Linked DNA regions of Homo sapiens. The protein of the gene in region 2 purifies or fractionates together with the protein of the main gene of each other region. This does not show direct contact. Each region holds a gene or a part of one and is shown on either strand. Other genes may lie near its edges.

The links.
Region 1: the proteins of ROR1 (region 2) and TBC1D4 purify together in Homo sapiens (affinity purification with mass spectrometry; one study listed by BioGRID and IntAct). This does not show direct contact.
Region 3: the proteins of ROR1 (region 2) and MORC3 purify together in Homo sapiens (affinity purification with mass spectrometry; one study listed by BioGRID and IntAct). This does not show direct contact.

What each region holds. Positions count from the first base shown.
Region 1 is NC_000013.11:75,286,670-75,290,169, forward strand, and holds part of TBC1D4 (TBC1 domain family member 4), read right to left. Parts: intron 2,442-3,500; coding exon 2,265-2,441; intron 357-2,264; coding exon 123-356; 3' UTR 1-122.
Region 2 is NC_000001.11:64,046,473-64,050,206, forward strand, and holds part of ROR1 (inactive tyrosine-protein kinase transmembrane receptor ROR1 isoform 1 precursor), read left to right. Parts: intron 1-3,218; coding exon 3,219-3,506; intron 3,507-3,734. UniProt on the Homo sapiens protein: Has very low kinase activity in vitro and is unlikely to function as a tyrosine kinase in vivo. Receptor for ligand WNT5A which activate downstream NFkB signaling pathway and may result in the inhibition of WNT3A-mediated signaling.
Region 3 is NC_000021.9:36,337,001-36,340,734, forward strand, and holds part of MORC3 (MORC family CW-type zinc finger protein 3), read left to right. Parts: coding exon 1-6; intron 7-731; coding exon 732-946; intron 947-1,773; coding exon 1,774-1,921; intron 1,922-3,734.

The DNA.
Region 1 (3,500 bases), on a different chromosome or scaffold from region 2:
CTCAGCACCAGTATTAGGTGGTTCCATCAGCTTCAGGGTCCAGCCTTGGGCCAGCGACATGCAGGCTCTTCCTCTCTGTAGTATTCTAAGGAGCACTTTCTGCTGAGGCCGTGCCTCTTCAATTATGGCTTATTTCCTATCTTGGCTTTGTTGTTAGGGTTGCAGTTTAGGTCTCTCAGCAACAGGTCACAATTGACTAGAGCATCCGCGGGCAGCAGCTTCCGGAGTTGCTCCACTGTCTTTTGATAAGCCATTTTTTCTTGTTCCAGGGTCCGGATTAAAGACTTCATTTTGGTCTCTCTCGTCAAAAGATTTTCCAGGTTTGATTCCAAGGCCTGGATTTTAGTATGAGCTACCTGTTTGGGGGGGAAAAAATCCTCCAAATCAAATGATTCATTATAGTAGGAGACAGTCCTTACACATATTAACCAATTACTTCAAATTACTTAATAAAATATTATGTGAAGCAAATACTCTGAAAACCTACAGGAAACGATGATTTATTAGGTTTCACAAAGATGTAACTATGGAACTACCATGCTTCATCTCTTCTCACTGAACACACGAATAATTCAATACTAAATCACCCCCCTCACCAACAGTAGGAATCCTTATTCTACACCCACTGGTGTTCCCCTGAGTGAGTGGGATCTGGCCTGGCTGAAGGAGAAACAGGAGATTCCTGACACTATTGCAGTGCTAAAAGAGATTTTCCTTCTCTGACTGAAATACGGCGTTCTCTAAACATACACTTGGGCTTTCATCAGTATTTATAGATGTGAGGGGTGGCCAAGTAACTGATGATGACTACACTGAACTGTCAGTGAAAAAGTCTACAACAGTTCAGACGAATCATTATAAAACAGGTACAAACCCACCTTCCCTAATAAGGGGCAAATAATTAATCGCCATTGACCTATCCAACTAAAAATGGACAATATACTAACCATTTAGTTTTCTTTTTGAAAATAGAGTATGTTGCCCTTTTTTGAATAGAAAAAAAGATTTACATTTTCTATGAGCCAGAGCCAATGTAAGACAAAGCGAAGGAAGTTTAGTGTTCCCATTCTTGGGAAGCAACTACTTTAGAGATCCCTCATTTCTAACCTGTCTCTCTTGACTGGTCTTGACAGGGGACTCACCATATAGAAGCAGAGTTTTAGTGTTTTCCAGTTTGTAGCCAGGTGCAGTGTTGGGGAAATGGAGAGGAGGAGTAAGTGGAAACCGAGGAGCCATTAGACACTGAAACTCCCCTGAAGTCATCTCCCCGAAGACTTCAGAAGGGTCACCTGCTAGCCCCCATCCTGTGATCACTCTTAAGCCCCTCCCCTCAGGGCATGGCTACATAGCACACATCATACAAGTTGCAAATACCGAATATGACTTTATAATAAATTTCTTATTGCATGTATAAGTGTGCGCTTAGAGACAGATATATAGTATTTTATATTCTCAAATAATTGTGAACTCCCTGATGGCAGGAATGATGTATTAATATTACATGTAACATTTGCATGGGATTCAATTTACCTAGACATGTCTCCCTCTCTTCCAATTTCCATTTTAGTCTAGACAACTCTCATCATCCGCAACAGATTTTCACAAGTGACTTTTAGCAGGCCTCCTTACCTTCTCTCCCATCTCAATCTGTCCTCGTCAAGGTTCCCAGATTGATCTTTCTACAGCATGGCCCAAAAACTTTGAGAGATTTCCCTCTTGACAGGATTAAAGCCATGTTCTTTGGCTTGACACTGAAAGTCACTTACGATTCTGCCTCTATCATATTTACCCTACCTCTCCCCAACCTCTATCTTAAATTGACACTAGGCTAACTTTGCTGCTCTGCCATGTCCTTCTGATTGATGCCACCCTCCTACTCAGCCTGACTTAAAGACCCTCCTCACTCATTTCTTCCACCAACCCTCCAGATTCCAGCTCAAGCCCAGGTCCTTCACAACTTCATCAATTTCCTACATTCAATTCCTCCTCCCTTTAATTTAACCAAATATCTATAACATGCAACAGGTATTTAAGCAGATTCCACTTTGAACTGCCATTTAGCTATTTTGTGAGGGTGCATTTTTTTCCAAGTAATGTTTAATTTAACATGTCATTTGTAGCCCCAGAGCACTTGGACAGTCTGATACATGGGCTCTTGGTTAGCAATGGTTCATTCCACGCACATATCCCTTTCATTCCTGAGGTAGTTCTGTGCATGCAGGAGGCATTGAAGTACTTATTTGCTCAAATCTTTATTTCTTTACCTGTAATTTTTCTAGGAGGTCCATGTTTTGTCTTTTCAGTTGGCTATTGGCCCTCTCCAGCTTCTCCAAAGTTTCACTATCCTCACAGGAATATGAAGATTCCTGAAGCTCATCCTGTAGCACATGATATTCCACCTCATAGGCATGCAACTGCTTAGAAATATCCATCTCAAAAACCTGCCATGAAAGTATCATGGGTTAGGCTAGCCTTTGGTATGTATAACAAGATACAGCCTGTTTATCTTGGTATATTTCATGTATATTTCCAAATACTTATTAATGAAGAACATTAAAGCATAAAAAAGCAAAAAAAAAGTGTAACTGTCAATACAAGAATAAATTAGATATAGTTTACACTGTCAACATAAAAACAGATAGCTCTTTCTGTGAAAGAAGATTTTCTTTAAAAACAGAACAGATAGATTATTTCTATGCAATTGAAACATTCTCATGAAGCTAAGTCCCTAGAATAAATTAATGTCCAAGTGTATTTGGCAGCTAAGATATTCATAATCTAGTAACTGTCTCCCAAAATGTAGTATACTAGATAAACAACATTAGTTATTGAGTAATTATTATGTTAGAGATAATCTCTGCTGATTAGTAAGCAAAATTGCATAGGGTATTACTGTAATAAAGCAACCAAAAGCATTTCTAATTTATTTGCCAATGGAGCAGAAAGATCTTAATAAAATTTTGCATCCATTTGCTATTCCCTGTAAGCCTCTTAAGAGTCATTTACATATTGTACCACACAGAGAATCCTCAAAATTGCACACTGTGAGCACTGTCCAGGGCTGTAAGGTTTAATTAGGGCTGCTACTGCTCTCCCATGTCACCACTAAATAGGAAGGTCGTTTGCTTTGAAGCTAGAGGACAGTTACTCCAAACTTCCTAGGGGGAAGGAGAGACAACAGCTGCTATTCAAGCAATGGTGTCTATACTAACACTGAGAAGAGAAAAGAAACCACAAAAAACCTGACTTACTCTACTACTTACTAATAGAGATACTCAAACATTCGAATTTTAATAAGAGAATTTCTAGACTAACTGGTTATCCTCAAATAACCATCATCTTTTCCTTACTTAGTGGGTATGGATACAATGGATTATTATACAACCATTAAAAATGATAATATGGATTTATAGTTACTGGAAAAAATCTAATACTTTATATTTTTAATTATAAATCAGGTTCCACAATAGTATATATAGTATGATTTCATTTATGTACAA
Region 2 (3,734 bases):
TACACTGATTTCAAGGTGCCCTGCAACCCTCATGTTGTTTTTAGATAGATATTTTATAGAGCAGATCAGGTGAGGTGCCTGGCCTCTGGAGGGAAACCAGAAAGAACATCAGCCAGCACCCATGGCTAAAGCTTAGGCCCATTAACCAGACAGTCTTGGCTGAAGTTAGGGGAAGAGCACAACCCTGTGGGTATATGTGTGTCCACGGCCCACCTTGGTTTAGGGAGATATTCCAACTCTCCATGGGTCTCATGGTACCAAATCTCAGCCCTCAATGGGTCTCATGGTACCAAAGCAGACTGGTGGAGTGAAAAGATTTGGGCTTGGCAGCCAGAGAGATGTAAATTGGACCTCAGTTCTGCCACAAGGCCTCCGGCAAGTCACTAAACCACTCTGATCCTAGGTTTCCTCATTGTAAAACAGTGATAATGACTTCTCCCTTGCAAAGTTAGCATACAGGTGAATACTAAAGTAAAGCCCTAGCATATAGTAGGATTTCAAAATAGTCCATTATTGGTCCAGAACTGGCCAGCTGCCTCAAATGGACTTTCTTTAGGTGCTTGGCTGAGCCTGAGGATTAAAGGCCATTAGTGATGGAAGCTTTGGGCAGTTTCCTGAGTAACCATGGGGCAAGTCTGCTAATCTCTGAGACATGACTTCCTCATCTGCACTGGAAATCATAGTAATTAATGTGCCTTTCTTACTTCTCTAGATTGTTAGAGGATAACAGGAGACAGAGGCTGTGAAAACATTTTGTCATGTGAAAAGTGGTATACAGAAGTTATTGTTATAAAAACAATAGTAACAACATTAATTAACATTTTTGAGTGCTTACTTTTTGCCAAACACTGGTTGAAGTGCTTCCCAGATGTCACTCACTTTCATTTTAATCCTCTTCTAACAGTTCCCTCAGATGGAGCCCTGTTTATTATTTTGGTTTTTCCGTTGGTTAAACTGAGGTACAAAGAGGTTAAGTAACTTGCCCAAAGTCACACAGATAGGCAAGGGGCTGACCTGAATTCAAACCCAGCCAATCAAATTCCAGAACCTGTCCAATGCAGTATTAATCACTATGCTTATAGTGGCATTGTTATGTGATTGCTATCTCTAAGTTTCTCTCCACAAAGGGTACATAGTTATCTATTCTCAATGAATGATATGGGGCTATAAAGGCATGATAATGGCTCCATAGAGCCATCTGCTAATTAGTCTCCCTCCTTTCTGGGCATACCTCAAACATCTTAGGAACATATGTGCTTATATCCATGAGCAAACACATTCGTGGATTGAGTATAGATGTATATAGATTGGAGAAACATGCCCAAAGATAGAGATCAAAATATAAATGTTAGGAAGCAAAGCATTAGCAAGATCATTTATGGGCTCATGAATCTGTTGTGAAGGATAATTATTCATTGGCTTAAGTGAGATGGAAAGTGTCATTATGGTAATGCAGTAGTCATGCTTAATCTGTTTCCTACTGCACATGTGATAAATGCCATTCATATGTGAGACACACTCCTGTGAGGCTGCCCAGACATTAACAATGTTCCTTCTGAATTTGGGGGGACGGAAATTAAAGCAAATAATGAATCAATTATTTTTAGCATTTATGAACTCATTTTACAGACATTTGGGCAATTAAATTACCCGGTTAAATAGCTCAGAAAAATGTTACTTTTCAATAAACTTCCATTAAATTCAACAAATTTGTGGCGTTCTACCTGTGCTGTCCAGTACAGTAGCCACTAGCCACATGTGGCTATTTAAATTTAAAAATTCAGTTTTCAGTTGCTCCAGCCATGTTTCATGCATTCAGTAAGCCCTGTGTGACTAGTGGCTATCAATCAGACAGTGCAGATTATAGAACATTTCCATCATTGCAGAAAGTTCTGGTGGATAACACTGCTAGACAGTAGTATACACTGAGGATGCAGTGATGACCAGAACATTCCCATCCCTGCCCTTATGGGGCTGATAGCTCTGCTGAACAAGTTACCCCAGACTTGGACCTACGGAAGGACATAGGACAATGAGAAAGTATGGCAGGGGATCTATCCAAGAAGGGGTGCTTAGGAAAAATGAAACCAAAGAAAGCTCCCTACCCATGAATAACAGAGCACGTTTTTAAAAGAAATCAAACTTAATTAAAAATAAATAAATAATTTTATCTGCAATTGGATTCTACAACTAATATTAATATTGATGTTTAAATACTTGATTGAAGAATAAGCTTAAATAAAACTTATTTTGTTATTAAAATTCATAGTGCAATAAATCTTAAGAGGAGCCAAAGCAAAATATACATGCAGCATGATTCCATTTATATGAAGTTCTGAAACAGGCAAAATTAACCTATGGTAATAGAAATTAGAACCTTAGTTGCTTCAAGGTGGGGTGGGAGGGAGTGGTTGGGAGCAGGGACCAACTACAAAAGATTGTGGGGGTACTTTCTGGGTTGTTGATGTTCTATCAAGATAGGGACATTTGTTACATGAGTATATGCATTTGCCTGTACTCATAGAACTGTATAACTAAGATCTGTATATTGCACAGTATTGTATATGAATTAATCTATATATATGTGATCAAAATAATTACATATTGTAACATGTTATGGTTGATATCAGTAATATTATGGAAATGTCCATTGCTTTATTACTCTGTCTGCCTCTGACCTGGCCTTCATAACCTTATATTGTCAGTAACATGAAAGTTTCAGGCATCCTTTCTGATCTTGTGCCATGTGGATATGAATGTGTTGCTCCTACTTTTCCAATTTTTGATGCTTTCTTTCTTATCAAAAGTGAGCAAACTGGAAGGATGTTTGCCAGGATGTTAAAAATGGTGTTATTTTTGGGTGGGGAGATTTGAGGTGAACTTTATTTTCTCTCTTTTGCTATGCTGGAATTTGGAACAAGGAGTGTATATGATTTTTTGATCTGAAGCACAAAAGCTTATCCATGTAGTCTTTTGGAGACTTTGGGTTCTATACTCTGATTAGTGACAAATTTTCTTCCAAGCAGCAGGCTCTATGGGTGGTTATTTAGCAGTCCTCTGGTCTTAATCAATGTGATTGTTTCTTTCCTTGTCTGTCTCACCTGCCTCTCCTGCTCAGCCTCTCTGTGATCCCAAGGGTACACTGGAGGGGATTTGGCTGCTTGGAAGCCCTCTCAAGCTGTCTGCCCCTCTCACCTGCCTCCTCTCTGTGCTCACAGATTCTTACCTGACCCTCGATGAACCAATGAATAACATCACCACGTCTCTGGGCCAGACAGCAGAACTGCACTGCAAAGTCTCTGGGAATCCACCTCCCACCATCCGCTGGTTCAAAAATGATGCTCCTGTGGTCCAGGAGCCCCGGAGGCTCTCCTTTCGGTCCACCATCTATGGCTCTCGGCTGCGGATTAGAAACCTCGACACCACAGACACAGGCTACTTCCAGTGCGTGGCAACAAACGGCAAGGAGGTGGTTTCTTCCACTGGAGTCTTGTTTGTCAAGTTTGGTAAGCAGACCCCTACTGGGGATGGACTTTGGCCCTCAGCCCAATGTGGTAGGATGGCTAGAGTCCACAGGGACAGGAAGGAAGGAATGCACACTTAGTGAGAATGTACTCTGTGCCCACAACCCTAAACCTGGTATGGTTGTACCCATTTTACAAATAAGTAAACTAAGGCCCAGCAGTTAGTTACCATGTTACCCAGCTAGTAAACAGCAGAGCAGGAATGAGGTC
Region 3 (3,734 bases), on a different chromosome or scaffold from region 2:
GCTAAGGTAGGTAAAAATGTGCCACACTTCTTAAAATTGTTGCTTTTACCTAAAGGGTTTTCCATGCCATACTTACTATTCTTGGTTTTTGTTTTTTGAAATGAAATGCTGTATGTACAGTGTGAGCTGTTCTCTAAGCATGATTTTCTACTACTGGTAGATGATGAGTCAGTCTTCACCACTGTCATCACCTACCCCACCCTACTTCCAACTCCCTAAAAGTCCACCATTCCTTTAGAGTTGTAGTATATTTATATCAATTACTGATAACTTTAGTGTAAATTAGGTTTAACCATTGTTTGTAATAAAACCTACCACTTTGTTGGGAGTAACTTTTAGAGGAAGAGATTCATGGGGTGAAATCTCACAGTCCCGGAAGCATGGGTTATACTCAGCTATTTAGTCAGGGTGTGCCAGCGATGAGTTTGCATGTTAGTACTTGTGATCCTTTTTCTCCCCTGTGATGTAGATTTGGTTTCCTTATTTCAGAGCTGGGAAAACACGTCAAGATAGATTAAAAGTAATCTGCCCGATACATAAAAAATCAACAACAACAAAAAAGTAATCTGCCCAAGATTATACAGCTAGGAAGGGTGAGGCCAGTATTTGAACCCAGGCTTTTTACTTGGTATTACAATTAATGAATTAAAAAAAAAGATTATAGGTATTTATTTATTTATTTATTTTTGATTATAGGTATTTATTTTTAAAAATCTTTATTTTCTTCTTAGCTTTGGCTTCAGTGACAAAGTCACCATGAATGGTCATGTCCCAGTTGGATTATATGGGAATGGCTTCAAGTCGGGTTCTATGCGTCTGGGTAAAGACGCAATCGTTTTTACCAAAAATGGAGAAAGCATGAGCGTGGGCCTTTTGTCTCAGACCTACTTGGAAGTCATAAAAGCGGAGCATGTTGTTGTTCCAATAGTGGCATTCAACAAGCACCATATCCTTTTGGTTGTGAAATAAAAGCTGTGGAGAAACTGAAGAAATAATTTGGAAACATTCTATGTTTTTGCCTTCTTCCAGATTATTCCCTTTGAATAACACCTATTCCATTTCTTACCTCTGTCCTCTGCATTTACCCTACACCTGAGGCTAAGGGTTTGTCCCTTTCTCTTCTCTGTTGGAATCCTGCTATGGAAATACTCAACATTTTATGTTAAACTTCCCATAGCTCTTCTGTTTACTTCAGGGTTATTGTAGACTAGTAAGACTTTATGGTTTGGCTTGAAAATTTGACTAGTGACCACAAAAGGCAGGATAACTTTAGGAAAATGCCTTTTGTATGAACACATTGGAATATTAGAAAGTATTAAGTTAGTTAGGAATAATAATCTGCTTATTTTTTATTCTTCTTCTTGTTCATTTGAAATCAAACTGCCATGTTAAAACTTAGAAAATAGGCTGAGCTCGGTGGCTGATCCCTGAAATTCCACCACTTTGGGAGGCCAAGACAGAAGGATTGCTTGAGCCCGGAATTTTGAGACCAGCCCAAGCAACGTAGGGAGACCCTATCTCTACAAAAAAAATTTAAAAATTAGCCGGTCGTGGTGGTGGGTGCCTGTGGTCGGTCCCAGCTAGGCTGCAGTTAGCCCTGATCATGTTACTGCACTCTAGCCTAAGCAATAGTGAGACCCTATCTCACAAAAAAAAAAACCTTAGAAAATTATTTATAAATAGTTTTTCTGTTATTTAAGTTTATAGAGTTAGTTTTCATATTGTAATTATGAAAACTATGTTGTCAATCTGAGTCTTTAACTTATGATATACGACAGATGATTAATTTAGCAGAATCAAAAGCCAGCCTTGCTGCAATTCTGGAACATTCTCTGTTTTCCACGGAACAGAAGTTACTGGCAGAACTTGATGCTATTATAGGCAAGAAGGGGACGAGGATCATCATTTGGAATCTTAGAAGGTAAACGTGGACATAGATGTTGACCGTTTGGGAAGTAAAGTGCACGTGCAGGGTGGTGGTGTTATATTCATCTCTCGTTACACACAGTAGAAATACATGGAAAGGTACTCATTTTTTGGTGTAGTTACTGATTTGTCTTTGCCCAGGATATGTTATAGAGGCCATTTCAGCTTCAATTTGAGATATTTTCATCTTGTTAAAAAAAATTTTTTTTTGAGACGAAGTCTCACTCTTGTTCCCCAGGCTGGAATGCGATGGCGCAATCTCAGCTGACTGCAGCCTCCGCCTCCTAGGTTTAAGCGATTCTCCTGCTTCAGTCCCCCGAGTAGCTGGGATTACAGTCGCCTGCCACCATGCCCGGCTAACTTTTGTATTTTAGTTGAGACAGGGTTTCACCATGTTGGCCAGGCTGGTCTAGAACTCCTGACCTCAGGTGATCCACCCGCCTTGGCCTCCCAAAGTGCTGGGATTACAGGCGTGAGCCACCACACCCGGCCAAAAAAAAAAATTTTTTTCTATCCCTGCCATTCAGTCTCCATTAGCACTCTATTCTCTCTCATTTATTCCACCCCGTCTTCTCAAAAAAAAAAAAAAAAAAAGAAAAAAGAAAAAAAGCAATGAGAAGACAAATTCAGGAGGATAAATCTTTCTTCATTGTGTACATTACTTAAAACTAAAAGTGATGTAGCACCTGATGAGAAAAGTAATATAGGTGAGATTTTTGTGTTGCTAAAATTTATAATCCTTTATCTTTGTGAGGATAAAATCCTTCGCAAATAAATTTTAAAATTTAAGACTAATGTCTAATACTGAAAGATCTAAGACATACTGAATCACAGGAATAAAGCACAGGTAGTGATAAGCCTAAAGAACTGAAAAAACTTGTGCTATTCTGATACCTGAATTCGTTTTTCTTGCTTTCACTTCCCTACCCCTCCTTCTCCTGGAGGATTTTTTCAATTATACTTTCTGAGGTAATTGTAGATTCATGTGTAGTTGTAAGAAGTAATAGAGAGATGTTAGGTACACTTCATTCAGTTTCCCCTGCTGGTAACATCTAACAAAACTATAGTACAGCCAGGCACACTGGCTCACACCTGTAATCCCAGCACTTTGGGAGGCTGAGGCGGGTGGATCATGAGGTCAGGAGATCGAGACCATCCTGGCTAACACGGCGAAACCCTGTCTCTACTAAAATTACAAAAAATTAGCTGGGCGCGGTGGCGGGCGCCTGTAGTCCCAGCTACTAAGGAGGCTGAGGCAGGAGAATGGCGTGAACCAGGGAGGCGGAGCTTGCAGTGAGCCGAGATAGCACCACTGCACTCCAGCCTGGGCGAAAGAGCGAGACTCTGTCTCAAAAAAAAAAAAAAAAACTATAGTACAGTAGTACTATTGATATTGACAGGATTTTGATGTTGATACAGTCAAGATGCAGGACACTTTAGTCATCACAGGAATCCCTCATGTTGCTCTTTTGTAGCCATACCCACTTCCCTCATAACCCCACTCCCTCCTTAATCCGTGGCAACCTCTAATCTGTTCTCTATTTCTATAATTTTGCCATTTTAAGAATATTACATAAACAACATGGAAACCTTTTGGATTTGACTTTTTTCACTTAGCATAACTCCTGGCGTTTTCCAGGTTCTTGTATGTATAGTTTGCACCTTTTCCTTTTTCTTTTTTTTTTCTTTCTTTTCTTTTCTTTCTTTCTTTCTTTTTTTTTTTTTTGAGATAGCGTTTTGCTCTTTCCCCCAGGGTGGAGTGAAGTATAGCGCCATCTCGGCTCACTGCAACCTCCGCCCACCGGGTT